Linked DNA regions of Homo sapiens. The protein of the gene in region 1 purifies or fractionates together with the protein of each later gene. This does not show direct contact. Each region holds a gene or a part of one and is shown in the gene's direction. Other genes may lie near its edges. The genes, in order: SUPV3L1 and TAF5.

The links.
Region 2: the proteins of SUPV3L1 (region 1) and TAF5 fractionate together in Homo sapiens (co-fractionation; one large-scale study listed by BioGRID). This does not show direct contact.

Annotation. Positions count from the first base shown.
Region 1 is NC_000010.11:69,206,914-69,209,805, forward strand, and holds the end of SUPV3L1 (ATP-dependent RNA helicase SUPV3L1, mitochondrial), read left to right. Parts: intron 1-879; coding exon 880-1,028; intron 1,029-1,686; coding exon 1,687-2,122; 3' UTR 2,123-2,180; downstream 2,181-2,892. UniProt on the Homo sapiens protein: Major helicase player in mitochondrial RNA metabolism. Component of the mitochondrial degradosome (mtEXO) complex, that degrades 3' overhang double-stranded RNA with a 3'-to-5' directionality in an ATP-dependent manner.
Region 2 is NC_000010.11:103,377,783-103,381,723, forward strand, and holds part of TAF5 (transcription initiation factor TFIID subunit 5), read left to right. Parts: intron 1-452; coding exon 453-768; intron 769-1,825; coding exon 1,826-1,989; intron 1,990-2,101; coding exon 2,102-2,237; intron 2,238-3,938; coding exon 3,939-3,941. UniProt on the Homo sapiens protein: The TFIID basal transcription factor complex plays a major role in the initiation of RNA polymerase II (Pol II)-dependent transcription.

The DNA of each region.
Region 1 (2,892 bases):
GGAGAATCACTTGAACCCAGGAGGCGGAGGTTGCAGTGAGCCAAGATCGTGCCATTGCACTCCAGCCTGGGTAACAGAGCGAGACTCCGTCTCAAAAAAATAAAAAATAAGGGAGGACATTAACAAGATAGAGAAACTTAAGCTCGTATTTGAGGTTATAGGACTATTACATATGAGATAGAAATAGGAGTCTTCAGGTACTGTCTGTCCATAGCTTTAGAACATCACATATTCCTAAATAAGAGTTAACAGACTTAGGCCCTGGAAAGTTAGTCCTTCTACAGCTTCTTTTTTTTTTTAACTGCTCCTTGTGGAGCAGGGATACCCTATAGGTAGTGTGCCCAGAGTAGCCCTTGAACTTCTGCTGCACATATTATTACCCTGGTTTTAGAAAAAGAAGGAAATCATCTTTTTTTGTTTTTTCTTTCTCCAAATGGTCTCACTGCTGGAGTGCAGTGGCACGATCATGGCGCACTGCAGCCTTGACCTCCCTGGGCTCAGTAATCCTCCACCTCAGCTTCCTGAGGAGTAGATGGAATCACAGGCACACACCACCATGCCCAGCTAATTCTTTGTGTTTTTTGTATGGATGGGGTTTCTCCATGTTGCCCCAGCTGGTCTCGAACTCCTGGGCTCAAGTGATCTACCCGCTTCAGACTCCCAGAGTGCTGGGATTATAGACGTGAGCCACTGTACCTGGCCTTATAAAGTATTAAATGTTCTTTAAAATGTAGAAGAGTATAAAGGAGAAAAGAAACCACCTGTCTATTGAAATACAACCACAATGTTTTGTTTTGCTTTCTTTTTTTTCTCTTTCTAATTATAGACTTAAGGGAATTCTGACACTTCTCTGAAACCCTTTTCCTCTTTCTCTCTCAGTTTGCCAGGCAGTATAGCAGGAATGAGCCCCTGACCTTTGCATGGTTACGCCGATACATCAAATGGCCTTTACTTCCACCTAAGAATATTAAAGACCTCATGGATCTTGAAGCTGTCCACGATGTCTTGGATCTTTACTTGTGGCTAAGGTACCAACATTTTTCCTTTATGTGCTCTCATTTTTCTAGTAGGACAAATTAAAGGTTTTATGAATTTGTTTTTCTATTTCAAATTATGGACATATTTGCAAGATGCTCTATATTATGTCTATTGTCCATAAAGGCAATTCAACTGATGGAATGGTTTCCCATTCCAAAAATGACTTGAGTTCTTGCAATTCTAGTTAAGATGGCTAGGTGAGAAGGAAGGTCCACTGGACTCCTGCTGGTCAAAGGATGGTCCTTGGACCAAAAGCATTGGTATCACCTGGGAGCTTGTTAGAACTAAGGAGTATCAGGCCCATGCCTGACTTGATCAGATTCTGCATTTTAACAAGATCCCTGGGTGATTCACTTGTACATTATCATTTGAGAAGTCCTGTTCTAGGCCAGTGATTCTCAAAGGAGGGGCATGTCCCTCTCCAGGAGTATATCAGAGTCTATTGAGGTATAGTGCTGACCCACCCTCAGGATGACATATTCCTCCGATATGTGGGGGCAGAAATCAAGGTTGAGCAAAGGCACTGAAGAGAGTTTGCAAAAAGAACATTTAGAATTTATCAATGTCATGATGTAGGTGTGCCATTGAGAGTTGTCCAGTGACTGCGATAAGAGCTGTTGCTATAATGCTAATGTGTCTTTTTCCCAGCTACCGATTTATGGATATGTTTCCAGATGCCAGCCTTATTCGAGATCTCCAGAAAGAACTAGATGGTATTATCCAAGATGGTGTGCACAATATCACTAAATTGATTAAAATGTCTGAGACGCATAAGCTGTTGAATTTGGAGGGCTTTCCATCAGGGAGCCAGTCACGATTGTCAGGAACCTTAAAGAGCCAAGCTAGAAGGACACGCGGCACCAAAGCTCTAGGGAGTAAAGCTACTGAGCCACCCAGCCCCGATGCAGGAGAGCTGTCCCTTGCTTCCAGATTGGTGCAGCAAGGACTCCTCACTCCAGACATGCTGAAACAGCTAGAAAAAGAGTGGATGACACAACAAACTGAACACAACAAAGAAAAAACAGAGTCTGGGACTCATCCAAAAGGGACGAGAAGAAAGAAGAAGGAACCTGATTCGGACTAGTTTTCTGTTCCTGTTTTTTTTTTTTTATTTAATTTTGCAAATAAAAATTTATTTTGAATCCTTTTTCCTCATATGCATTTACTCCCTCCTCTAGTATTGTGGCTATCTGGTACTGGGGGATTTTTGGTGTGTGTGTGTGTTTGTGTGTGTGTTTGTTTGTTTTTTCTTTTTTTGCACAGAAAAATCTCTCTTGATGACTAAACTTGTTTTTTTTTTTTTCAACATTTAGAAAATACTAGGATATCATGGAGGTTTAATTTAAGTCTTTATATAATGGCCATTTGTAGAATAGTACTAAGACAGTGCACTATAAGGAACTCTGCATGGGAATAAAATCACTTTGGTGAATTGTTTGACCAGTTTCCTATGCCATGCTGAGGATGTCATGGATGCAGTTCTTTGACAAACATTGCTGTCTGTTGTACCCATATACCAGAGGCTATTTAGGTGCTGGAAATATGCAGTAAGCAAGACTGACAATCTTCTACCCTCATGGATCTCATATTTGGTAGGAGAGACAGGAACAGGTTAACAAATAAATCCTGTCAGATCGGTGAGGGCAGAGATTGTAGTCTATTTCACTACTGCATCCACAGTATCTGGAATATAGCAGAAGCAAAATCATTCTTTGTGAGATGAATGGGTGTAATTTTAGAGATGAATGCTAGAAAGAATAAGGAAAGAGTGATGCTGAGTGGCAGGGAAGGGCTGTTTTAGGTAGGGTGGTCTTCCCTTGTCCAAAGGCCAGCCTACACTTGTTCAACGAAGTT
Region 2 (3,941 bases), about 34 Mb from region 1:
CTGTGTACATTGAGTTCATTATACTCTTTTTTATGCCTTTGAAATTTTCATAATAAAACTTTTAAAAGTGGGTTTTGAGAAACCATAACATTTAGTAAAGCAAGGGTTCTTATATTTTCAAATGTCTACCAGTTTCTTTTAAATGTCTCCATTCTAAAGAAACTGTCTACCAATGGTGGGTATATTATTTTTCACTTAGGATATTTAAGTTCTTTTCTTAAAATGTTTGTGATACATTTCATTAGAGAATTACATTTGTTCATTTTTAGAATAAATTCAGAAACTGAATTATAGTCATTTTGAAATGAGTTACTTCTTATCCTACAGCTTAGTTCAGGATTATTTAGACTACTACATTGAAAATATTCTGGGATGGTTTATAAGTATATGGGGGAAAGGCAGATCCCTTAATGATTACATTGAAAAATGACTTTTTAAAATCACTGAAACAGGTTCCATGGAGATCAGGAATGTTATTACCAGGATGACCTACGAGTATTATCTAGTCTTACCAAAAAGGAACACATGAAAGGGAATGAGACCATGTTGGATTTTCGAACAAGTAAATTTGTTCTGCGTATTTCCCGTGACTCGTACCAACTCTTGAAGAGGCATCTTCAGGAGAAACAGAACAATCAGATATGGAACATAGTTCAGGAGCACCTCTACATTGACATCTTTGATGGGATGCCGCGTAGTAAGCAACAGATAGATGCGATGGTGGGAAGTTTGGCAGGAGAGGCTAAACGAGAGGCAAACAAATCAAAGGTATGGGAATGAACCTAAGAACTCTATAATGCAGATTATGAAAAATTGTAGCATTTCCATCTACATAAGTTACACATTTTTCTTATAGCTAGCTTGGAAACAATTTTTTTCGTTTGTTTGTTTTGAGACGGAGTTTTGCTCTTGTCACCCAAGCTGGAGTGCAGTGGCGTGATCTCAGCTCACTGCAACCTCCACCTCCTGGGTTCAAGTGATTCTCCTGCCTCAGCTTCCCGAGTAGCTGGGATTAGAGGCACACGCCACCAACCTGGCTAATTTTTGTATTTACTTTAGTAGAGACAGGGTTTCACCATGTTGGCCAGGCTGGTCTCGAACTCCTGACCTCAGATGATCCACCCGACTCCGCCTCCCAAAGTGCTGGCATAACAGGCGTGAGCTACTGCGCCTGGCCGCTTGGAAACAATTTTATACTGTATATAAAATTTTGTGTTCTAAGGGTGATGTTTATATGTGACAATTTGGGTATGGTTGCATTTTATGGAACCCTGAATGCAGTGGCTGAAACAAAGAATTTTTCTCCCATAAAATGAATTTCAGAGGAAGGCCTTCCAGGGCTGGCATGAAGGCTCCACAGTGCCATCAAGGTCCCTGGCTCCTTCTGGTTTCTGATCCACCATCTTCAGAATGTGGCTTTCCTCTTTGTGCTCACAAATGGCTGTTGCAGTTTCAGCATTGCAGCTCCGTTCCAAGAAGGAAGAAGGGGGAGGACAAAAGGCATATCTCTGCTGAAGCTTTCCCTTTTTAATCAGGAAAACAATATTTTTTTGATACAACCATACCCAGTATACTTATATGGACATTCCTAGCTGAAAGGGAGCCTGGGAACAGAAATGATTTAACTGAGCACATTGCTACTCCAATAAAATCAGGGTTCTGTTAGTAAGGAAAAAGGGGAGAATGGCTATTGGGTAGACAAATACAGAACCCTGCTTCAGAGTGTAAATTACTATTTTGTAATTGTGATTTATCCTATCAAGATGTAAAATGGGTATATTAATGAATAAATAATTTTAAAAATGTTGGCTCTTTTGACTTGTAGGTATTTTTTGGTTTATTAAAAGAACCAGAAATTGAGGTACCTTTGGATGACGAGGATGAAGAGGGAGAAAATGAAGAAGGAAAACCTAAAAAGAAGAAGCCTAAAAAAGATAGTATTGGATCCAAAAGCAAAAAACAAGATCCCAATGCTCCACCTCAGAACAGGTGAGGAAAAAACTTCAGGAACTTGTGTGTGGAGGTATAAGACAACATGTTATATAGAGTTCAAGTTTGTTAATAGTCAAAAGGTAATTTTGACTCTCTTTTTCTTTCACAGAATCCCTCTTCCTGAGTTGAAAGATTCAGATAAGTTGGATAAGATAATGAATATGAAAGAAACCACCAAACGAGTGCGCCTTGGGCCGGACTGCTTACCCTCCATTTGTTTCTATACATTTCTCAATGCTTACCAGGTTGGTAAAAAAATTGGGCGATTTCTGCCTGGAGAGTCATGTAGGATGATGATTTACCATTAAGAGAGAAACAAATGTATTAGCTAAAATGGAGTTTCGTTATTTAAACTCCTTTTTTTTTTTTTTCTGAGACAGAGTCTCGCTCTGTCGCCCAGCTGGAGTGCAGTGGCGCGATCTCAGCTCACTGCAATGTCCGCCTCCCAGGTTCATGCCATTCTTCTGCCTCAGCTTCCCCAGCAGCTGGGACTACAGGCGCATACCGCCATGCCCGGCTAATTTTTTGTATTTTTAGTAGAGATGGGGTTTCACCGTGTTAGCCAGGATGGTCTCGATCTCCTGACCTTGTGATCCGCCTGCCTCAGCCTCCCAAAGTGCTGGGATTACAGGCATGAGCCACCGCATGTGGCCCCTAAACTCTTATACAATTTAAAGACAGCATTCAGGAAGAGAGAATTGGATACTGCACAGAATAGATAGAAGTCAATGTTTAATGGCATTTGTTTCACCGATCAGAATTCTGCTAGCCTTTGAGGAGGAGCAAATTGTAGTTCATTTCTGTTGAACTTGGTTTAAGTACTTACGTAAACTTATTTATCAATTTTTTTTTTTTTTTGAGACAGAGTTTTGTGCTGTCACCTAGGGTGGAGTGCAGAGGTGAGATCTCAGCTCACTGCAACCTCTGCCTCCCGGGTTCAAACGATTCTTGTGCCTCAGCCTCGGCCTCCTGAATAGCTGGGATTACAGGCACCCTCCACCATGCCTGGCTAATTTTTGTATTTTTAGTAGAGACAGGATTTTGCCGTGTTGCCCAGGCTGGTCTTGAACTCCTGACCTCAAGTGATCTGGCCGCCTCAGCCTCCCAAAGTGCTGGGATTACAGGCGTGAGCCACCGTGCCCAGCCATATAAACCTTATTTTATTTTATTATTTTAATTTAATTTCATTTTTTGAGATGGAGTCTTGCTCTGACACCTAGGCTGGAGTGCGGTGGTGCAATTTTGGCTCACTGCAACCTCCGCCTCCCAGTTCAAGTGATTCTCCTGCCTCAGCCTCCTGAGTAGCTGGGATTATAGGCATGAGCCACCACGCCCAGCTAATTTTTGTATTTTCAGTAGAGAAGGGGTTTCACCAGGTTGACCAGGCTGGACTTGAATTCCTGAGCTCAGGCAATCCACCCGCCTCAGCCTCCTAAAGTGCTGTGATAACAGGCATGAACCCCCGCGCCCGGCCAAACTTAGTATTTTATTTTATTATTATTTTTTTTTTGAGATGGAGTCTCACTCTGTCGCCCAGGCTGGAGTGCAGTGGCACGATTTTGGCTCACTGCAACCTCTGCCTCCTGGGTTCAAGTGATTCTCTTGCGTCAGCCTCACAAGTAGATGGGATTACAGGTGCCCACCACCCTGCTTGGCTAATTTTGGTATTTTTAGTAGAGATGGGGTTTCACCATGTTGGCCAGGCTGGTCTTGAACTCCTAACCTCAGGTGATCCACCTGTCTCAGCCTCCCAAATTGTTGGGATTACAGGCATGAGCCAGTGCGCTTGGCCAATATTTTAAATCAAGAATTTTAAAAGTCTTTATATATTCCTTAAAATAGAGGATTGAGGAGATATTTAGTATAGTGTGAAAATGATTAACATTTGCTTCCTATCTCTAAATATCCTAAAATAGTATTGTTTAGTCTAACCCTTTTATTGGCAGGGT